Linked DNA regions of Homo sapiens. The protein of the gene in region 1 interacts with the protein of each later gene in a pairwise test. Each region holds a gene or a part of one and is shown in the gene's direction. Other genes may lie near its edges.

The links.
Region 2: the proteins of PBX3 (region 1) and DESI2 interact in a two-hybrid assay, tested with the Homo sapiens proteins (one large-scale study listed by BioGRID).
Region 3: the proteins of PBX3 (region 1) and COQ8A interact in a two-hybrid assay, tested with the Homo sapiens proteins (one large-scale study listed by BioGRID).
Region 4: the proteins of PBX3 (region 1) and TRIM44 interact in a two-hybrid assay, tested with the Homo sapiens proteins (one large-scale study listed by BioGRID).
Region 5: the proteins of PBX3 (region 1) and GAD2 interact in a two-hybrid assay, tested with the Homo sapiens proteins (one large-scale study listed by BioGRID).
Region 6: the proteins of PBX3 (region 1) and NUDT9 interact in a two-hybrid assay, tested with the Homo sapiens proteins (one large-scale study listed by BioGRID).
Region 7: the proteins of PBX3 (region 1) and PTPN9 interact in a two-hybrid assay, tested with the Homo sapiens proteins (one large-scale study listed by BioGRID).

Annotation. Positions count from the first base shown.
Region 1 is NC_000009.12:125,925,373-125,928,872, forward strand, and holds part of PBX3 (pre-B-cell leukemia transcription factor 3), read left to right. Parts: intron 1-3,500. UniProt on the Homo sapiens protein: Transcriptional activator that binds the sequence 5'-ATCAATCAA-3'.
Region 2 is NC_000001.11:244,705,126-244,707,329, forward strand, and holds part of DESI2 (deubiquitinase DESI2), read left to right. Parts: intron 1-430; coding exon 431-664; 3' UTR 665-2,204. UniProt on the Homo sapiens protein: Has deubiquitinating activity towards 'Lys-48'- and 'Lys-63'-linked polyubiquitin chains. Deubiquitinates 'Lys-48'-linked polyubiquitination of RPS7 leading to its stabilization.
Region 3 is NC_000001.11:226,946,794-226,950,293, forward strand, and holds part of COQ8A (atypical kinase COQ8A, mitochondrial), read left to right. Parts: intron 1-2,689; exon of another isoform or gene 2,690-2,842; intron 2,843-3,500. UniProt on the Homo sapiens protein: Atypical kinase involved in the biosynthesis of coenzyme Q, also named ubiquinone, an essential lipid-soluble electron transporter for aerobic cellular respiration.
Region 4 is NC_000011.10:35,721,775-35,725,274, forward strand, and holds part of TRIM44 (tripartite motif-containing protein 44), read left to right. Parts: intron 1-3,500. UniProt on the Homo sapiens protein: May play a role in the process of differentiation and maturation of neuronal cells. May regulate the activity of TRIM17. Is a negative regulator of PAX6 expression.
Region 5 is NC_000010.11:26,296,774-26,300,273, forward strand, and holds part of GAD2 (glutamate decarboxylase 2), read left to right. Parts: intron 1-3,500. UniProt on the Homo sapiens protein: Catalyzes the production of GABA.
Region 6 is NC_000004.12:87,453,573-87,456,763, forward strand, and holds part of NUDT9 (ADP-ribose pyrophosphatase, mitochondrial isoform a precursor), read left to right. Parts: intron 1-798; coding exon 799-883; intron 884-3,191.
Region 7 is NC_000015.10:75,523,816-75,527,315, reverse strand, and holds part of PTPN9 (tyrosine-protein phosphatase non-receptor type 9), read left to right. Parts: intron 1-54; coding exon 55-198; intron 199-3,017; coding exon 3,018-3,107; intron 3,108-3,500. UniProt on the Homo sapiens protein: Protein-tyrosine phosphatase that could participate in the transfer of hydrophobic ligands or in functions of the Golgi apparatus.

The DNA of each region.
Region 1 (3,500 bases):
AAAATACACACTAGATTTCAAAGAGTACAAAAAAGGAATGAAATACCTCATTAACAGTTTTTTTGTCTTTCTTTGTTTCTTTCTTTCTTAATTTTCTTTCTTTTCTTTCTCTCACTCTGTCACCCAGGCTGGATGCAGTGGCACAATCTCAGCTCACTGCAGCCTCTGCCTCCTGGGCTCAAGTGATCCTCCTACCTCAGCCTCCCAAGTAGCTGGGACCACAGGCGTGCCACCATGTCCAGCTAATTTTTTATATTTTTGGTAGAGACGGAGTTTCACCATGTTGCCCAGGCCAGGATATTTTTTATATATTGGGTTAAGTGAAATATATTGTTGATTAATTTCACCTAATTCTTTGTATTTTATTTTTTAATATGGCTACTGAGAATTTAAAAATTTAATATGTGGCTCACAATGTATTTCTATTGGACAGGATTACTCTAGAGAGAAATTTTGTGGCCAAATTTATTTGGGAAAAAGTTGGATATGCTATTTCTCCTTGAAGATTTATTACAAATATTAGGATAGGAATACTGAAGAGTCTTACCCACAAAAAGTTTTTAAGATTTTGGTTAACCCAGCAATTCCCAAACATATCATATTGTTGGACTATTAGTTAACATTCTATGGAACTAGCTGTAGAACTATAGAATTTGTTAATCCCAGTTTTGGAATAGTTCTACTTCAATTATCTTTGTTTTACTGATGAGAAAACTGAAGGGTAGAGTTGGTCACATTACATAACTTGGAAATTATATAAACATCTCCTTAGGGAAAGTTCAAGAAAAAGATATATACGTATATTTATTGGTAGGGTGACCACTTGTTTTTAATTTGGCATAAAATCATTTAAATTGATAATATAGGCCAGGTATGGTGGCTCACGCCTGTAATCCCAGCACTTTGGGAGGCCAAGGTGGGCGGATCACTTGAGGTCAGGAGTTCGAGACCAGCCTGGCCAACATGGTAAAACCTTGTCTCTACTAAAAATACAAAAATTAGCTGGGCGCAGTGGCATATGCCTGTAATCCCAGCTACTTGGAAGGCTGAGGCACGGGAATCACTCAAACTCAGAAGGCGGAGGTTGCAGTGAACCAAGATCATGCCACTGCACTCCAGACTGGGCAGCAGAATGAAACTGTCTCAAAATAATAGGCCAGGTGCTATTTATTACAGGCTCATGCCTATAATCCCAGCACTTTGGGAGGCTGAGGCAGGTAGATCACTTGAGGTCAGGAGTTCGAGACCAGCCTGACCAACATGGTGAAACCCCATCTCTACTAAAAATACAAAAAAAATTACCCGGGCATGGTGGCACACGCCTGTAATCCCAGCTACTTGGGAGGCTGAGGCAGGAGAATCGCTTGAACTTGGGAGGCGGAGATTGCAGTGAGCCAAGATCGTGCCATTGCACCACAGCCTGGGTAACAAGAGCTAAACTCCGTCTCAAAAAAAATAGTAATAAGATAAAATAAATTGATAATATAGTGGGGAAGATCTTAAATTTATTTTTTTAAATCTTGGTTTCTGCCTTCAACTTCTGGTTTTAGTCTACAACATTGCTTAATGTTTTACTGTGTCATATCCTGGGACAATGATTATTAACCTTTTAAAATTATAGACTGAGATTCTGAAAAGAAAACAAAAGCTTCACAGATTCTCTCATCAGAATTATTAATATGCACACAACTTGTGTAGGATTTCAGGAGGTCATTGACCTTCTAAACCTATCCATTGACTGCAGATTAAGAATTCTTCTCTTATGATTCAGGGATAATGAATTTATGGCTATTAACCAACATAACTCTCACTCTTGAATTGTAGTATTAAAAAGCCCACCAATCTGTAGATGTTTATTAGGTATGTATATTGCATAATTCTACACTGAAGAATCCCGTAAGTATAATATAGTGTCACCACTCACAAGGAATTTAATATTTCCTATGGCTTAAAACATATTTTTGAAAAAACTTTACATGATAAGACTCATTTTACCTTACCTTAGAAATATTTATGGAAAGCTCTATAAAATTTTAGAGTAAGTGAAATACACAGGGTTCAGGAAAGGTTAGTCCTCTAATGAGCAGTTAGAAAAACCATCATGTGCTATATGTGAGCAATGTTTGGGATATCTCTAGGGAAGTGGACATTATTATAACTTCCAAACATGTCTTGCATTGATCAGTGATTTTTCTGTCTTCTCACTCCATCAGGGACACCCGTGCAGTAAGATGCAGAATTTCCCATCCTGCATTTTTAAGAAAAATGCCAGAAGAGACTCTTTTTCTTCAGGAGTATAAACTGATGCTTTATTTACCAGGCAGTACTGGATTTCAGTGTAGGCCCAGTTATACAGATTTATAAATCAAAGAGAATATAGATGAAGTTGGATGCAGTGGCACACACCTGTAATCCTAGCAGCTCAGGAGGCTGAGGTGGGAGGATCTCTTTAGGCCAAGAGTTTGAGACAAGTCTGGGCAACATAGCAAGACCCTGACTCTAAAAAAGATTTAAAAATTAGCTGGGGGCCAGGCGCAGTGGCTCATGCCTGTAATCCTAGCACTTCGGGAGGCTGAGGCAGGTGGATTGTCTGAACTCAGGAGTTTGAGATCAGCCTGGGCAACATGGTGAAACCCCATCTCTACTAAAATACAAAAGAAATTAGCCGGGCGTGGCGGTGTGTACCTGTAGTCCCAGCTACTCGGGAGGCTGAGGCAGGAGAATTGCTTAAACTCAGGAGGCGGAGGCTGCAGTGAGCCGAGATCACACCACTGCACTCCAACACTCCATCCTGGGCGACAGAGCAAGACTCTGTCTCTACAAAAAAAAATAATAATAATAAAAAATACATAAAAAATTAGCTGGGTATGGTGGCACATGCCTGTCGTCACAGCTACTTGGGAAGCTGAGATGGGAGGATTGCTTGAGCCCAGGGGCTTGAGGCTGCAATGAACTATGATCATACCACTGCACTCTAGCCTGGGTGACACAGTGAGACTCTGAATATTAGGGGAAACAAATGTGTGTGTGTGTGTGTGTGTGTGTGTGTGTTTTTGTGTATGTACTGAAAGAGACAATGTCTGAGGATTTTTTTTTTTTTTTTGAGACAGAATCTTGGAATCTCGCTTTGTTGCCCAGGCTGGAGTGCAGTGGCGCGATCTCGGCTCACTGCAAGCTCCATCGCCTGGGTTCACGCCATTCTCCTGCCTCAGCCTCCCGAGTAGCTGGGACTACAGGCACCCGCCACCACGGTGGGCTAATTTTTTGTATTTTTAGTAGAGATGGGGTTTCACTGTGTTAGCCAGGATGGTCTCGATCTCCTGCCCTCGTGATCCACCCGCCTCAGCCTCCCAATGTGCTGGGATTACAGGCGTGAGCCACCGCGCCCGGCCTGAGGATTGTTAACTAAAAAGTTTGAGACCCAGATCTGATCCTTATTTTCTGTTGGACATCCCTTGAAGAGTTGAGCTGCTTTACAGAGATGGCTTATATCCACTAAA
Region 2 (2,204 bases), on another chromosome or scaffold:
GAAAAAGAAGAATTCACAAATAGGAAAATATCCAAGATTGACTCTTCCAATTGCCTGGGGCTTCTATTACTCTAATAATATATTGTATTAACAAGCGTCTTCTGTGTGTTCAAAGTACTTTTCAGTGTGTCTCACAGCAGTTGCAGAGATCAAAGAAAGGAGCCAAGTGAAATTAGCTTGATTTCACAGATATGAAAAGTAAGCAACTTGACAAGGTTCTTTAGAAAGGAAGGAATGGAGCCAACAGTAGGGAGCCCAGGTCCTGAGTAAAGAGCTGCTTGTTATCAAAAGCCTGGAGTGACACCACTGAAGGCTAGTCTGCCGTGGCTTCTCTGTACGCCGCCCCCCTCCTCCCACCCTCCACTCCCTGGCAGTGGACCAGGTAATCTTAACCTCTCTTACCTAATACAGAACTCTTTCTCTTCTGTAGATTCTTTGTGGGAAAGAGATTCCTCGCTGGATCAATCGACTTGCCTACTTCAGCTCCTGTATACCCTTTCTACAGAGTTGCCTCCCGAAGGAGTGGCTCACGCCCGCAGCCCTGCAGTCTAGTGTCAGCCAAGAACTCCAGGATGAACTGGAGGAAGCAGAGGATGCTGCCGCATCCGCTTCCGTGGCAAGCACTGCAGCAGGCTCCAGACCCGGGCGCCACACTAAACTATAAATGTCTCCAAAGTCACACATTCAGAACTGTCTCTGGCAGTCGAATATCACTAGAGAAAAGTAAACAGAGAAGCATCCTTTAGATATTTTGTATGCAAAGATGGCTCTCCCCCAAATCCCAGTTTTTCAGCTCAGGATTATATTTGTAATCAAAAAAAAAAAATCACTTGGCGCAGGAGGGAGAACTTTGTAAGAAGCTGCCCTCTGTTTTTTTTATCCACTCGTAAATCTGGATTTATTTCTTCTGTTTTATACAAGCTCTGTTAAGTTATGTTTACAGTATCTTGTATCGCTGTTTACAAATCTTGCATGGACTCCTGCCACAGTGAAAGAAGAAAATCTTCATGTCTTCAAAAATTAGGCAGGTAATCTTTGTATACTTCTGACAATTGCCAGATCTATGGCATAAATAGGCACACAAAAAGGTACTTAAACAGTTATAGTCACCATCACCTGCTTCAGAATGGTCTTTTAGATTTGTGTTTGTTTTGTTAAAGTTGTTGGCACCAGGATGCAGAGAATCAGACTGGCCTGAGGTGAAGGAGCACACAGCCCTGAGGGCTTGGAACCCTGGGTCCAGTTCCTCTTCACACCCCCTTCCACTCTGAGTAGCACATCTCCCCAGGTGCCCATGGAACACCTGCTTTCATCCCAAATATCCGTCCACCTAGGCGGGGTGGTATGTTCTTACGTCTCTCTGACTTTGATGCCACTCATTCTATAGTTTAGCTGGTTTTCGTTCAAGATATTCTTGGTAGTAACTGACAAGTATGTTGCACATGTATTGGGGGAGGCGCTTCATTTTTATTTTAATACACATGTATTTCCTCCTTGCACAGGATTTTGATGGTGTGGGAATATCCTAAGTGGTAGCCTTCCAAGTAGCAGTGAGTTGACATTCAGCTGCTTTTAACTATTCAGGCTACCTTTTATACTAAACCTTGAAAACTAGAATCTAATGTCTACCCCAAAAAAGTAGTTCTTTGATATTTTATACTTTTTATGTACCATGTCAGAAAGAGTATGTTGGCGTTTGTCATGGGACTCATTTCACATAATAGAATGCCTAGTCTCATTGACCAATCGTTAAAAAATCATATTTGTGTGTCTTAAGATTCATATTTATATGTTCTCTCAAATGTATGTCTCTTACGTAACATACTCTAAGAATGAAACTGTCACCACAGGTAAATCCTTGTTAGCAAGGAATCTGTCTGCTCCAGTCTACTCCTAGTTTGATCCTTGGATGTAAGAACCAAGTCATTACATGTCAAATTCAATTTTTCTGCCTTAAGAATGAATGTCCTTCATAAAATATTGGATGCAGTGTAACACTATCCAAGGCAGTGACTTCAGCTTTATATACATATAAAATATAGTTAGTTTTAAAATTATTGACATTTATTTAAACTTTTAGATTGGATTGTTTGCTATTGCTCTGTGTGAGGATACATAATCTTTCAGTAAACTGTATTTTTAACTTTTCCATAAGCTGATTTTGGTTCATTTTATCAACGTAAGCACACCCTGTTCATAGGGAA
Region 3 (3,500 bases), on another chromosome or scaffold:
TTTGGAGGTGATGCTAATAAAGGTTGGTGCTGGTGTTGAGTGTGGCAAGACTGAGGGCCGTGTGCCCGATGGCTCCTCCTAGCTCTTGCACACCCAGAGGCAGTCTTCAGTGTAGGGCGTCTGCCTCTTTCCACTATTTATGTTTAAGATCAAACTGGCTCTGGAACCAAGCTTTGCCTCTAGTGGGTAGGATCACTGGTGCTGAGAATTGTGATACCCTCAGTCCTGGCAGCTGACAAACTTTCCAGAGCAGGGAGTTTGGCCAGATGGCCTTTGAGAGCCCAGCTGGCCCCAGAATTTTTATGACTCAATTTTCTGTAACCAGGAAGACACATTTCAGGATGTAAACCTTGCTGATGTCTCATATTGAGTGACTATTGATTTAACAAAAAAGGAGTTATTGATTTGGGGCAGTGTTCTTCTCTGCTATCTCTCAGCTTCCTAGGCAGTAAGAAGAAAGGACTGGAGCCTGAGTCAGACAGGTGTGGAAGGGTCCAGCATCCCACAGCTTTGGCCCTTAGGAGATTGCTCAGCCTTGATGAGCTTTAATTATCCTATCAATGAGTGGGGATAATACCTCACCAGGTCTTTGTAAGAACTAGAGGTAATATAAAGTGACAGGCAGACAGAGGGGAATAATAAATGGTAGCTGTTCTTGTTATTATTCCTATTTCATTGAGATATTAAACCTGAAGTAAAAGTGTTTTGAAAGATTAAGAATATAAAACCGAGGCCAGGCACGGTGACTCACACCTATAATCCCAGCACTTTGGGAGGCCGAGGTGGGCAGATCACTTGAGGTCGGGGGTTCGAGACCAGCCTGAGCAACATGGTGAAACCCTGTCTCTACTAAAAATACAAACAAATTAGCCAGGTGTGGTGGTACCCACCTGTAGTCCTAGCTACTCAGGATAATCACCTGTGCCTGGGGAGGTTGAGGCTGCAGTGAGCTGTGATCATGCCACTGAATTCCAACCTAGGCAACAGTAAGACCCTGTCTCAAAAAAATATATATATATATATATCTATCTGCCTGGCATGTAGTATGGGCCCAATATAGAGAAAGTCAACAGGACTCCGTCATTAAGAACAGGAATGCACTGAGCTGTCTGTGGGGTAGTCTACCACCCAGCTTGGTGCCTCGCACTTGGTTGGCATTCAGTAGTATTTGTGGAGTGACCAAAGTTAATTTAGAAGAATGGTCTGGAAATTATTCTAGAATACAGCCCCTCTCCCCAACCCAAGGATCTGCTTTAATTTCCTATGGCTGTTGTGATAAATTACCACAAAGTTTGTGGCTCAAAGCATCATAAATGTATGATCTTACAGTTCTGGAGGTTAGAAGTCTGAAATTGGTCTCACTAGGCTAGAATCAAGGTATCAGCTGGGCTGGTTCATTTCTGGAGGCTCAAGGGCAGGACCCGACCCCTTGCCTTTTCCAGCCTAGAGGCTGCCTGCATTCCTTGGCTTGTGGCCTCTTCCTCACAATGGCATCACTCCAGCCTCACTTCTGTCTCCCATCACCTCGTTCTGACTCTGCCCTGCCTGCCTCCCTCTTATATGGGCCCTTGTGATTACATTGGGCCCACCTGGATAATCCCCCATCTCAGGATCCCTGACTTCATCATATCTGCAAAGTCCCATTTGCAGGTAACATTCACAGGTTCTGGGGATTGTGGTATGGGTATCTTTGAGACACCATTATTCAGCCTACCACAGCCACCCACAGTATTTTGGCCAGATTTAAAGACAACCCTGTAAGCGTCTGAAAGAAACGTTGAAAGAAACCCTTCAACCTCAACTTTAGGATCCTTAATTACCTTCCTGGGTGGCAGTGGTTCGTGAATTCAGTCAACGCTTGCGCTTGTAATTTGTGTGGGTGGATCACTCTGTGTGTGTGGGTGGAGTGGGAAGAGTCAGAGTTGTCTGAGACAAGAGCCTCCCACAAGGAGCTTATAGTTTGAAGAGAAGAGAGGTCCATGTGCAAGAAGAAGAGTAACTTACAATGTAGGAATCTGACCAGCAAGTTAGATCAGCTGTCAGGAGAACGTAAATATGGAAGAGCTGGGAATCAAGGGCCTGAATAGGAATACGTTCTTGAATTTATATGGTGCTTTAACACATTTCAAAGTATATCCACCCACCCCTCCATTTATATTGGACAATATAATAACTTATACCATCATTTCGAGGAGAGGAAACAGGTCAGAGATGGTTCGAGAATATGCCTGGAGCAGCCCAGCTGGTCAGGGCAGAGCTGATTCCCAGCCCCAAGGCCCCAAGGCCCTCACCCTTGGCTAATGGGTGGGTTTTCAGACGTACAGAGATGAAGGGGCGAGCGGGCCTGCCTGAGAAAGTAGGACCTGCAGAGTGGAGTGCGCTCACATGGCTCGCGCGTAGCTGGAGGCTGGAAAGGAGGCCGGGGGCCTGATTTCGATGCCTGGGACTTCAGGCGCAGGAGTTTGGGTTTTATATATATGTCTACATACATGTCTACAGGTAGAGGAGCCATTTGAGCAACGCGTTGGCATGATGAACGTGGGTTTTTTTATAGGGAGAGGAATCTGGCAGGAGAGTGTTCCATGGCTCGGAGCTGGGGAGCTTGTGGGAGTTAGAGGGGTTTTCTTCCCAACTGCCTCTCCCTGAATGTACCTGGACAAAAGCCTCCCATGCTGTTTTCTCCTTTAAGGTGAAGTGGTAAGGAATACCAGTGGACATTTGTGTCCCTGGTTTCGAAGCAGGCTGCCAGCACTTTGGACTGCCTCTCCTGAATGATGCCTCATACCACAGCACTAAATAAACCACACTGGTCCTCCCCAGCCCAGCCTTCCTCCCAACTCAGGTATGAGACTGTGCCTGGCAGGAACAACTGCGGGTTATCCAGACTGATCCCATTCACCCTAACCGTTGGTCTCACCAAGTCTGAACTTCATTCCAGAATGTCTGTGTGCTTGCAATACTACTACTAATAATAATGGCATTAGCTAATGGTTTTTAAGCACCTACTATATGTCCTGAATGCTGTTACATGGATTTATCCAGTCCTTTCAAGAACAGATGAGGAAACTGAGGCACAAAGATAAGCTCACATGACTTGATTTAGGTCACACTAGCAAGTCAGTGGCAGAGTCATGATGTGAACCCAGATCACCTAACCTCAGAGCATCTTAACCATGTCACCAGTATCACTTCCTGAGCCAAATATTTTAATTTAAATGTTTTAAGCAGTAAACTTCACTAGGTTTTTAGTCAGAAAACTAAATTGCCATCAGGACCTTGCGCTTGGCTGGTTGGCCTTTAAAAGCCTTGTGTGTCATCGGCTATATCAACTCACAGAGTGGGAGAGGCTGCTTGGGACCCTCTGTTGCCTGCCTGTGGTTGGAGCTCTGAGCCCATGCAGGTTCGCTCACAGTGTTGGGTCCTTCTCTGGACTATCATCAGAGGCTGGAACTTTGCCTTCTGCTGCTTTTATATCACCCCCAACCCTGCCCAGCTCCCAA
Region 4 (3,500 bases), on another chromosome or scaffold:
TACCGTGTTTCTAGGCTGCTGAATAATTTTCTAAGCCTGGTGGGTGGGCAGTTGTTTTATTCACAAATAGTGGCTATTCCACTGATACACAAAAGACACAAGAAATAGGAGATCTTGCCATCCATTGAAAAAGCCTTGACCTCCTTGTTGATGAAGTTTTTCCCTTGCCTGCCCTCACTGGAGTCTGGCCTAAGTTTGGAAGGAGCTGTCTTGGAGTACAATGTAGGAATAAATGCTGAAGGCTAAACAGATGCCTTAACTTTGAACTTCCCAACTTGAAGTTTCCATAGACACTGGCAAGTGGGGAGGACACTGTGCTGTGGGAGTGTGGACAGCTTGTAGCATCTGAAAAAGTTCCATTTCCTGCTTTTTTGTTTTTCTGTTTTAGAACAATGGCCTTTCAAATGAGGAAGAGGGAAGTGAAAATGGACTTTTTGGGGAGATATTTAGAGTCTTCAAACTCTATTTCATGCAGTCTACAATTTTTAAAGTTATTTTTGGAGTAGTCTCCTTAACACCTTGCAGGAAATTTGGCTTGTAGGACTGTTACCAAATAGGGGTCCTGACCCAGACCCCAGAGAGGGTTCTTGGATCTTGCTCACGAAAGAATTCAGGGCGAGTCCATATAGTGAAATGAAAGCAAGTTTATTAAGAAAGTAGAGGAATGAAAAAATGGCTACTCCATAGGCAGAGCAGCCCCAAGGGCTGCTGGTTGCCTATTTTTATGGTTATCTCTTGATCATATGCTAAGCAAGGGGTGGATTATTCATGCCTCCCCTTTTTAGACCATATAGAGTAACTTCCTGGCATTCCCATGGTATTTGTAAACTGTCATGGTGCTGGTGGGACTGTAATGGTGAGGACCACCAGAGGTCATTCTCATCGCCATCCTATTTTAGTGGGATTTGGCCAGCTTCTTTACTGCAAACGTGCTTTATCAGCAAGGTCTTTATGACCTGTATCTTGTGCCGACCTCTTATCTCATCCTAAGAATGCCTAACCTTCTGGGAAGGCAGCCCAGTAGGTCTCAGTCTTATTTTACCCAGCCTGTATTCAAAATGGAGTGGCTTTGGTTCAGACGCCTGTGACAAAACAAATGTTTCTGAAATATTCAGTGTAGATTTGGATGCTTCTCTTTTGAGTAGCTTCCTGCTCCTAACCCTGACCATTATTCTCAGTTCATCTCAGCAATACTTTTCTGAAACAAATTGTTTTTCAATCTCTCTCTCTTTCTCTCTCTACCTCCCTCCTTCTGTCTCTCTCTACCTCCCTCCCTCCCTCTCCCCCTTCCAACTCTCTCCCTCCCTCGTCTCTCTCTCTCTTTCTCTATCTCTCCTTCTCTTTCTTTTTCTTGTTTCGACAGATTCTCATTTATAACTCTTTTGAAATGATGAGTTGTAAAAGTACATTAGACTGGACCAGAGGAAAGTTTCTAAACCTAACTTTATTATCGTACTTCTCTGTGACTTTTTTTCCCCTTCACCTATAAAATTAGAAGGTTAGATTCAGATGTTCAATAGGTAGTTCTGACCATACAGTGGTCAAAATTTTCAAATTGCAGTGCTATGTTATAATTTCAATACAATGCTATGTTTAATCATATTCCACTTCACCCTAATGCAACTATAACAAAGATATATCAGCTTGATTGTAACTAACATGCCAAAGGTTTTGATGTCTTAGGTTGGAAAATGCTTATTTGTTAATTAGAGAATGAGAGTGGGAAAAAGGCATAAAGGTTTTGTAAAGCGGATTATTTTTTCCTTCAGTTTTCATTTGTGACCTGATCTGTATAAAATACAGTGTCATGCTGAAAACCCTATGTAATTAAAGCCATGGGAAATAGAGAATTTTAAAATCCATGACTCATTCACCTGCTGCAGTCTGGCCCACACCTTTACTAAGTGAGATGTCAGCTTCCTAACTGAACCACATGTGTATGTGAAGTCTAGTAAAATAGGTTGTGAGTCAGTTTTTATTATGATATCCATTTTTAGTTACTGGTAGCCATTAAGAGAGTTTCTCAGGCATTCAGAAAAGTCCATCCCTTAGTGAAAAGGTTTGGTCTCTGAGAGAAGGACCTAGTCATTTGAGACTCAATTTATTTCAGGAGTAGAGATCCATTGATCAATGATCACTGTAAAGCATAATAGCCCTAAAATACATACACTAAAAATAAAAAGGAATTATATAAACACAAATCACAGTTCTCAATCTGATACAGAATTTACAGGGACATTAATAACATTTAATACACTTTCCCATTTTCTCCAGCACCAAGGAGAGCACCTGCAGAGAGTATATGAGGGCTTATGACACTTAGTCACTTGATGTGTGAGCAGATACATGTCATACAGGCCTTATTTTGCACTGATGTCCTTAGTAGTGTTACAAAAGCTGCGTAAGGTATCAAGCTTCTTTCGGTTTCTAAGGGGCTAATTAAAAATTAATCTGCTACCCCCTCCTGTAGGCTTTGTCTTTCACAGTTTCCTTTCTTAGGTTTTCCCAGTTTGACTTCCCTTCTGGCAGACTTTTATAGTGAACAGAGCACCAGACTGAGAACAAGAAGATTGGAGTCTTTCCCTCTTCTACAGGTTTGCAACCGTGTCCATTTCCTTATCTGTAAAAGGAAGGGGTTCATTTAGATGACAACTGTTTTCTCTTCCAGTTCTAAAATCCTCCATTGGCTTTTCTTCTGCCTTTCTCCTTTTGTCTACGGTTTACTTCTTCCCTGCTCCCTATCTCAGCTACACTCATAATATGCATAGTTGTTTTAAAATAATCATAAAATAAACATGGTTGTGAGGAAACATCAATAAATACAGTTGCTGGTAAAATTTGGAGTTTAGAAGTTCTCATTTTGATAATTTCTCACTTTGTTAGCCTTTCTTATGCCCTAAGCATAAATATAGCTAGCAGTTGTATTTTCTTTGGTTTGCAGTTGTTATAAAATAAAACAATAATATATTTGCACCCATGATAGTAAAAGTTTAAAAGCTTGATATAATCCAGTATTGGCAAGGGTGTAGGAAAATGCTTACTTTCATATGTTGTTGTAGGAATGTAATCAATACATCTTTCTCAGAAGGCACCTTGGCAGTATGAACCAATATTTTTAGAGTATATGCCAATTTACTAAGTGGCTCTAAACATCTTTAAAAAACTCATATGCGTATATTAAGAGATATAGCCAAGGATGTTTATTGCTGTGTTGTTTATAAAAGCAAAAATTTGGAAATATCCTGTACTTCCATTAAGAGAGGAATGGTTAACTAGGAGACATGCACACACTCACACACACACACACACACACACACACACACACACACACCCTCCATCTCCATATCATACAGATAGTAAAAATAGTAGAATGAAGTTGATCTGTATGCACAAATATATCTTAAGTAGAAAAGTAAGACAACCATATTTTCCCTATGATTCATTTATATAAAAACTACTTAATTATCTATATACATATATGTACATAACTATATAGAAAA
Region 5 (3,500 bases), on another chromosome or scaffold:
TTGGAGGACTTTTCAAAGGTTAGCAGTGGATTTAATACTAAATTTGTAAGGAAGTAGCCTGGACTTATATTTAATACAGACTCTTTGAAAGTCTGTGTTATTAAGTGCAATAGAGGATTTAATTGGTGAAATTTTCGCATATTAGAATTTTTTTTTTTTAAGACAGGGTCTCACTCTGTTGCCCAGGCTGGAGTACAGTGGTGCCATCTCGGCTCACTGCAACCTCCACCTCTCAGGTTCAAGTGATTCTCCCACCTCAGCCTGCCGAGTAGCTGGGATTACAGGCACACACCACCACACCCAGCTAATTTTTATATTTTTTGGTCAGGACAGGGTTGGGACGGGGTTTCACCATGTTGGCCAGGCTGGTCTCGAACGCCTGACCTTAAGTGATCGGCTCACCTCGGCCTCCCAAAGTGCTGGGATTACAGGCATGAGCCACCAAGCCTAGCCAACAGTTTAGAATTTCTCATTTAATTATTCTGCTTTTACATTTTTCAGAAATTTCTCGCAGTCTTCCAAAATGTAAAAACAAAGAGGTTTTCTAAGACATAGTGAAAAATACATTTCTGTGATATCTTTTAAGTTTATTTCATAATGCTTTACTATGCACCCTCTTTGAAAGGGACAAATGTGGATTCCAATTATGGAAAAGTCGCCTGGTTATTGCTTTCTAAAGGACTGAAAAAGCTAATGGCACAAGAGAGAAGACAATACCCTAAAATTATTAAGGCAGGCCCAAAGAGCTCTTGTTGACTATACCTTTAGCGAATTCTTCAACATGCAACCACTCTTTCTCAACTTGCGTTCTTTATTTAGGAAAACTAGGAATCCAACCAAAAAGTACAAAAGCCTAGAAATAAGTGAAATCTCTATGTATTTCATCCAAAAGACCACTGGGATGGCTAGATAGTAGAAAGGAGAGCTTTATTGATGATATCAGTTTGCAAACTGGGAAGAGACAGCCTCCAGCATGTGTGGAAGGTGCCCTCTCTTCCAAGAGAGGAAGGGCAGGTTGGGTTTTATGCCTCACAGGGCCTGTATCACACAGTAGAGTCATACATATTCAGTAGGTTTTGGGGGAAAGCTATCCATATTTATGAGGGGAGCTGAGCACATGCAGAATGAGTAAACATATATGTAACATACATCCCATGTTTACTTCGGGGCAGGGTTTTAGTGTTAGAATGAGGTGAAATTTGGCTCTTCATGTCAAAAGGTGAACTGTAGGACATAAACACAGTTTGTGCACCGCATCTATAAGCTGCTAAAACTGGCTTAAGGTCTGCAATTGCTTACCAGGAAAGAATGTGTGTAAGGTCAGTCTTCTGTCTAGTCAGAGTTATAGTGGTCTGGTTAGTAAATCAGGGTAAGGAGGGGGTCTCATAGCGCCTATTGTTAGGGAATTTCAATCATTAGGAATTTAGTAATTTGCCCTCCAGCCAGGCCTTGAACCCTGGACCCATCTTAGTTGATATAGGAGTGTCTATTTTGGCCCCACAGATCACATATATTCATCAGAATAGTCCGAATCTTATTTTCCTTCTTAACTTGCAATGAGTGAATATACAACGAAGTAGATGTTCATGTTCCGGCTAATTTTAGTTCATCAGCATTTTCTGGAAGCAACCAAAAGTCATATGTATTTAGACAGCTGTGATTTCTGCCAATTCAGCTTGCTTCGGGAACTGAGGGGATTCAATCTTACTTTATGCCCAAATCTGTTTGCTTGTGGCTGTTAGCATTAATCTTTTAACCTTTGATTTGCATTCATCTGAAAAGCTAGAGATGATTGTCCTTAATAATTAGTGCCATTCTTCTGTATTTTTGCTTGGATTACCCATGAAAACTAAATGAGACTTTAATTTACTGAGTAAAGCTCTGTCATTATTTTATCAGTTCTAAAGGGCAAGCGTGATTTATTATACAAATAAAACTAAGGAATGGTTATGTGACTTGTCCTTAAATTCCTGCAGCCAAGTGGATTTGGAATTCCTTTTCTAATCTGAGATTTATCTTCGCAGGAACCACATTGACTTGACACGCCTCACAACACAAAGGATAAATTCCATGCCCCTTTGGCTGGAATATGCTAGTAGATCTATTTTCAGAAGTTAATCTCAGATTTGAGATATTTTAATTCTTCTTCTTATTTATTCCCTGGGATGAGTCCAGTGCTCTGCATACATTCTTAATGCTTTAGGTGAAAGAAGGATCAGGCCAAGAGAAACATTCCTCCCCATGGAACAAGGGGTGGGAAGGGATATAAGAACTCAATGTAGAGTCAGAAGATCTCAATGCTGGAATCATCCACGTTCATTTTTAGAGAAGGAAATTAGGTTCAGAATGAGAAGTGAAGGTGAAGTCTACCTGTTGACCTTGTCTTTGGTAACTAACAAATGATTGGACCCAATGGGAACATTGCTATTTTATGCATTGGATACTTTGAAGATGAAAACTTCATTATAAACCAATGATTATTTAAGAGTTGATATTTATAAGTCACATGTTCATAACAGCATTCCATTTGAATTGAACTGTCTATTTAAGATAAATCCAGCTGTGATAGAAGGCATGGTCTCCATTTTGAACCGGGTTTCTGACCATATGAAACTCAAAGAAGTCTAAAAGTTTCTCTGATGTCTATCTACCATTTGCAGAAATGAAGATCAGATATTATATATTTACAAACTCCAGTGGTAAATATATGTGGATAGACTGTATGTACAGTTAGACATGATTTAAGTTTTTGCTTCTTCCTAGATAGCTGTTTCTATTATGCTACTCTTTATAGCAATAAGAACTTAGGAATCCCCCAACATGAACCAAGCACTGTGCTGGTAAAGAACAACAACAAAAACAGTAGAAGACACTGTGTCTGCCCTCCAGGACCTGACAGTTGAGGTAGAGAAAGAAAATGTATTTGCTTGAAAGTAAGAGGATAGTAGGAAATTAGCATATAGTCAGAATCTATGGGGAAGGATCATGGATGATATGTTTACAGCTTAAAGGAAGAGAGCTACTGATGGACACTAGAAGTCAGGAAAGGCTTCATAGCAGTTGTAGGACTGTGGTGGAATCTTGAAGTGTGTGTAGGATATGAACCAGAAGAGAAAAGGGATGGATTCTAAGCACAGAGAACAAGTATGACATAGTAACACTGATGACAAGTGTGAAGGGATAAAAATACATATGGTAAATTCAAGAGATATTTAATAAAGGAGTCTTGTCAGAGTTGAAGATTCATTTTGGCAAGTGGTGGAAGATGAGGCCTCATAAATGGATGATGAAAGGTCTTTGCACTGAACTAGAGTTTAAACTTAATTTCATATACAATAGAGAGCTACTGAGGCTATAATCAAAAATCTGGCATAAATAGAGTATAATCTCGTCTGTGGTATGCTATCCTGTCTGTGATATGAAACATATGTTAAGTCCTTGTGAGTTCAGCTTTTTGTCCCAGCTAATTATCATCATTATTAAGGATTATCTTTCAAAAT
Region 6 (3,191 bases), on another chromosome or scaffold:
GTGTTCTCCACCATGCCCAGCTAATTTTTGTGTTTTTAGTAGAGACGAGGTTTCACCATGTTGGCCAGGATGGTCTTGATCTCTTGACCTCATGATCCGCCCACCTCCGCCTCCCAAAGTGCTGGTATTACAGGCATGAGCCACCACGCCTGGCCTGAGGGTTTCATGATTTTTAAAGCTGCCTCAAAAGAGAATATTGTTCTTTGGGAAATTTGAAACAAGCACATGAAGTACTACATTAAAAGTTTTATGATATTTACATTTCTTTCTTTTTTTCTTTCTTTCTTTCTTTTTTTTTTTTTTTGAGACAGAGTCTCGCTGTGTTGCCCAGGCTGGAGTGCAGTGGCGCGATCTTGGCTCACTGCTACCTCCACCTCCTGGGTTCAAGTAATTTCTCCTGTCTTAGCCTCCCGAGTAGCCGGGACTACAGGCACCTACCACCATGCATGGCTAATTTTTTTTGTATTTTTAGTAGAGACAGGGTTTCACCTTGTTGGTCAGGCTGGTCTCGAACTCCTGACCTCAGGTGATCCACCCGCCTCAGCCTCCCAAAGTGCTGCGATTACAGGCGTGAGCCACCGCGCCCGGCTATTTACATTTCTTTAAAAAAATTTTGATAGAAACACATAATGTCAAATTTACCATCTAAACTGTTGAAGGTACAGCTCAGTAGCATTAAGTATGTTCATGTTGTTGGGCAACAGGATATTTACATTTCTGATGCTAGTGAAGGTAACATGCTCTGCTGTACTCACTACACCTTGGACTTTTAAAAAATTTGTCTTCTTTTGAAAATAGATATATAAGGGATATGTTGATGATCCTCGAAACACTGATAATGCATGGATGGAGACAGAAGCTGTGAACTACCATGACGAAACAGGTAACTTTATATTTATTAAACTGGCTGGGATTAAAGGATCAATTTAAGCCATTAGCCCACTAAGGCATGATTAAATCTGGACTATTTAGCATCTTAAACCAATTAACTGTTGATTGTAGGACTGTAGTTATATGAAAGCAAAATTGTTGGTATTAAAGGAATACATAGAAGAAATCTTCAAAACTTTTATCACCAGTGACTAAATTTTCTTTAATCCATTGGTAACATTTGAAATTAAGGATGAAATTATGGGCTAAAATGATATGCTTTAAAGATGTCAGATTATTTATTGAGTATAGTTCCCTTTTTTTGCAAAACAAAAGCAACTGGGATTTGGGTAGGAAGTATGGCAATGATAAAGGAAATGGGATTTATATCTTACTATTTCAAATATTTTTATAATAATCTTGGATTGTTAATACACAAAGCAATAACAAAAAATTCCAAGTACTGAAAAAATTTTAAATGAATGCTGTTTCTGGTGTATGGAATTTAAAATTTTATGAGGAGGGTCAAACCTGTTATTACAGAAGGAGAAAGGAAAAATCTGCTGTCTTAAAAATTAATTTGGTCTTAATGTACACATTGAATGGCTCCCTTGAAACATATTTTATTGCTAAATTTGATTTGTTTTTATTTGTAGCATAAAAGTGGGGGCACCATGCTAGAGAAATGAAATGAATGTTCCACTCATAGTTCTTTCTGAGCTGTGTAACCTTGTACAAATCATTTGTCCTCTTGGACTCAGTTTTTTCACTTACAAAATGGGCTAGAACTAGATCTGTCATTTCCATATCCTGTGCTTTTGCTTGTTGAACTTGGAGGAAACTCCTGGGACCATTTTCTATTCCTGTATTTCCACTAAGGTGTATTAGAAGAGTTTATCCTAGTATGAAAACTTAGAAGAAATATGCAGATGTAAATTAGAAGCAGGTCTGTACAACTTTAGTACTGATAAATTTGTTAACTACTTTAAAGTTTTGGAGTTAAAAACAATGACTGATCCTCCAGAAGTTGATTATAGAGTTTATGGATTGTTCACTGTTTTTACCCTATCTTTTTCTCTCTTTAAACTTAAAAAATTTTGTTTTGATAATTCCAAAATCTCTGCCATATTTGAGTTCGGTTTTAATATTTGCTTTGTTTCTTTAGGCTATGTTTTTTGCCTTTTAGCGTGCTTTTAGTGCTTTTTTTTCTTTTTTCTTTTTTTTTTTTTTTAACCCCGAGATGGAGTCTTGCTCTGTCACCCACGCTGGAGTGCAGTGGCATGATAATGGCTCACTGCAACCTCTGCCTCTCGGGTTCAGGCGATTCTCCTGCCTCAGACTCTCAAGTAGCTGGTACTACAGGCATGCACCACCATGCCTGGCTAATTTTTGTATTTTTAGTAGAGATGGGGTTTCACCATGTTGGCCAGGCTGGTCTCAAACTCCTTACTTCAGGTAATCCACCCACCTTGGCCTCCCAAAGTGCTGGGATTACAGTCATGAGCCACTGCGCCTGGCTGTAGTGCTTTTTTGAAAATTGACCATGATATAACTTGTAAGGGAACTAAGGCAAATAGTTCTTTAGCGTGAGGTTTTATGTTTATCTGGCTAGGAGTTAGGCTGTGTTTTTTGTTTGCTGTCATTGTATGTGTCAGAGGCTAAAATTTCCTCTAGTTTTGGGTTTCCCTGGAGACTTATTAAATGAGGTCTGAAGCATGCCCTTCTTTCAGCTGTCTTCCCCTTTTATTAAACAGGAGTCCTATTGATAGATATGGTGGTAAATTCTAGAGGAAGGGGAATCATAGGAGAATATATGGTTAGATGTCAGTCTTTTAGTGAGCCTGTGGCCCTGGGCTGTGACCCTTCATATGTTATTCTCAGCTTCCCTCCTTCCTCCCCAATCCTTAGGAAAGACAGGAAATCCAGCGGGGGCTGGAGTTGGGTATTTCCTTTCCCTCAGGTTGCTTAGGGCTTGGTAAAATAGTTTTCCTTGAGGGCAGAGTGATCTGGGTGTATTTGAAATTGGTTACCTTTCCCCTCTCCATGTTAGAAAGGAGAGAGGATTTTTCTCCAGTCTTCACCTGGTGGCTTTCTTGGAGGTAAAGCTCACTAAAATGTAGGCCCCCTCTTCATACTGGTATGGCTGACCCCCTAGGAGATTTTATCTTTCAAGCTAGTCCAAAGGTCAGCTTTCAGCAGTTAGTTACCCTTTAAGTGTTCCTACCAGGTGCTGACTCCAGCGGTAGGCTTCTCTCCCTGGTCAGTTGTGATTCTCTGTATTTGCCTGTCTCTCCAGTTTTTGGTATGGCAGTGTGGTCTCT
Region 7 (3,500 bases), on another chromosome or scaffold:
CTCCATAAATATGCTCTCTTCTTACTAATTATTCTTTCTTTCTTTGTCAAACAGGCTACCAAGCAGTTTCTCGAAGAGATTAACAAGTGGACAGTTCAGTACAATGTTTCCCCGCTGTCTTGGAATGTGGCTGTCAAGTTCCTCATGGCAAGGAAGTTTGATGTGCTCCGTGCCATAGAATTGTTCCACTCCTACAGAGTATGTGGCTCAGGGGTAGACCAGACCTGTGGCAGTTGGGTTAAGTGTTGCTGTTGTCCCTGTCATGCTCGACACACACATTGGTTCTCTAAGTGTTCCTCCTCACTTTCATAAAAAATGGATCCATATCCAGGAGCCCTTGTGAGAGCTGAAGCTGGGCAAGGCAGCTACTGGAAGGCACTACTTTTGTACCTAAGTTTTGATCGTAGACCAGGATGCCACATCTAATGATTGAGACGGAGGAAGTAGCCTGACAGCATCCTGGTGGCAGGATAGGGGTTCACCCTTCCTAGAGTTTTAATCCTAGCTCTTTTCATTGGCCTCTGGCCACATGAAAATCTTGGTTTTCAGGTTGTCTAAGGCTTTTAGAAACTTGCCATTCAGATGAATGATGAGCTTAGTGGGCAGTTCAGGAAGGGAAGTTTTAACACTGGAAAAGAAGAGCAACTGTGTATTAGCTAGGTCCATTATCTTAAAGTATCTTTATGCAAATGTAGCGGCATCAGGATTTTACTTTGTTTTGATTTTTGTTTTTTGAGGGGGCATAGACTTTGGTTTTGTGCTTGTTTGCTTTCTCAGTTAGTAGTGTCTTTGATAAAACACTATACAGCATGTTACTTTGGGGTCAGAATCCTTCTAAAGAAATACAAAATCTCCCTAAAAAAAAAAATTGGGATAACAAGCACTAGGATTAGCTTAACTGAAGTTTGGTTACATCTGTCTTGTGGACCAGCTCATTCAATATTCATTCATTTACTCAACAGATACTTATTTTATACTTACTGTGTTCCAGGTGCAGAGATTACTATTTAGAAAGAGAGACTAGGGCTGGGTGCGGTGGCTCATGCCTGTAATCTCAGCACTTTGGGAGGCCAAGGCAGGTGGATCACTTGAGGTCAGGAGTTTGAGACCAGCCTGAACAAAATGGCAAAACCGCATCTCTACTAAAACTACAAAAATTAGCTGGGTGTAGTGGCACCTGTATTCCCAGCTACTCGGGAGGCTGAGGAGGGACAATCACTTGAACCAAGGAGGTGGAGGTTGCAGTGAGCCGAGATCACACCATTGCATTCCAGTCTGGGCAACAGAGTGAGACTGTTTAAAAAAAAAAAAAAGAAAGAGAAAATAAACAAAGAGTTGTAGAAATGTTATGATAAGGCAGCACTGGATTCTGTGGAAGCACTTTTTTTTTTGAGACAGAGTCTTGCTGTGTCTCCCAGACTGAAGTGAAGTGGCATGATCTCAGCTCACTGCAGATCTCTGCCTCCTGAGCTCAAGTGATCCTCCCACCTCACCTTAGCCTCCCGAGTAGCTGGGACCACAGGCATGCACCACCATACCTGGCTAATTTTTTGTATTTTTAGTAGAGACGGGGTTTTGCTATGTTGCCCAGGCTGGTCTCGAACTCCTGAGCTCAAGTGATCCACGCACCTCGGCCTCCCAAAGTACTGGGATTACAGGCATGAGCCACCGTGCCCAGCCTAAGAGGTTTAAAACAAGCGGTTGATGAAATAAGACAAACCAAGATAATATTTTTTTGTTATCGGTATATAAAGGTAGAGAATGTCTCCGGAAAAAGGAAGTGTAGGTGGTCAACCTTGTCATTTAAGAGGAGAACTGAAGAGGCTGGGCGCGGTGGCTCATGCCTGTAATCCCAGCACTTTGGGAGGCCGAGGCGGGTGGATCGCTTCAGCCCAGGAGTTGGAGACCAGCCTGGGCAACATGGCAAAACCCCGTCTCTACTAAAAACACAAAAATTAGCCAGGCATGGTGGCACGTGCCTGTAATCCCAGCTACTCAGGAGGCTGAGGCAAGAGAATCTCTTGGACGTGGAGGTTGCAGTGAGCCAAGATCATGCCACTGCACTCCAGCCTCAGCAACAGTGTGAGACTTGGTCTCAATTAAAAAAAAAAAAAGAATCTGGCCATCAGGGTGAGGAAAATGAAGTCATGGTAGCTGCTGTTGGAGACAATATCAGGTGGAGAGAAGGCTCCTATTTAAACATAGGAGAGGCCTAAACCTAGAAAATATGTGAGAACGTAGGCATCCAGACATTTTTGAGGTCCATATTTTAGTGTCCTGGTACCATGTCAGTGCTGCTGCGTGTTTAAGAACCTTGATCCTGCACCTGAATGTAACATACTGGTTACTCTTCAGGGTTAGGGTTCTTACTGAGTCAGAGAAAAATACCCTACCTGAGGGGCTGATAAAGTAGCTTTGGACAGGAATTCCGAAAATGCTTGACTGGCTTGGAGGCAGGTTACAAAGAAATTCATAATTCATTTAGTTGACTTCATTATTCATTTAGCTGAATTCTTTTTTTTTTTTTTTTTTTTTTTTGAGACAGAGTCTCATTTTGTCACCCAGGCTGGAGTGCAGTGGTGCTGTCTTGGCTTACTGCAACCTCCACCTTCTGGGTTCAAGCGATTCTCCTGCCTCAGCCTCCTGAGTAGCTGGGATTATGGGCGCGCACCACCATGCCAGGCTAATTTTTGTATTTTTAGCCGAGACAAGGTTTCACCATGTTGGCCAGGCTGCTCTCGAACTCCTGACCTCAGGTGACCTGCCCGCCTTGGCCTCTCAAAGTGGTGGGATTACAGGCGTGGGCCACTGCGCCCGGCCCATTTAATTGAATTCTAATTCAACTAAATGAAGTAGAATTGGTTATGAAATTAGTTACAAAATTTATTTAGTTATGAAATTTATAATTCATTCATTCATTGATAACCACCTTATCTCTGAGATTTGGTGGTTACATGGTGCTGTCCTGGATATACAGTATTTTCATATTAATACATTTTGCTGTGCTTCCTTTTTAGGAAACTCGAAGGAAGGAAGGCATTGTAAAGCTGAAACCTCATGAGGAACCTCTTCGTTCTGAGATCCTCAGTGGAAAATTCACCATCTTAGTGAGTGTTTAGGGACCTATCTTGTAGGGCCTTATTACTTCCTTTTTTAACTGGTGTCCTGTTTGGACTTTGTTTTTTTTTTTTTTTTTTTAATTTTATTATTATTATACTTTAAGTTTTAGGGTACATGTGCACAACGTGCAGGTTTGTTACATATGTATACATGTGCCTTGTTGGTGTGCTGCACCCATTAACTCGTCATTTAGCATTAGGTATATCTCTTAATGCTATCCCTCCTCCATCCCCCCCTGTTTGGACTTTGTTCCTATATACCTTATCCTGAATCTAGAGAGTCTCCACAGTTAGGAGCAGATGTGAAACAGCCATGCAGTTTGGTATAAAATTATTTTAGTAACAATTGAATTACTAATAGTTTCTAGTAATTAGAGTTAC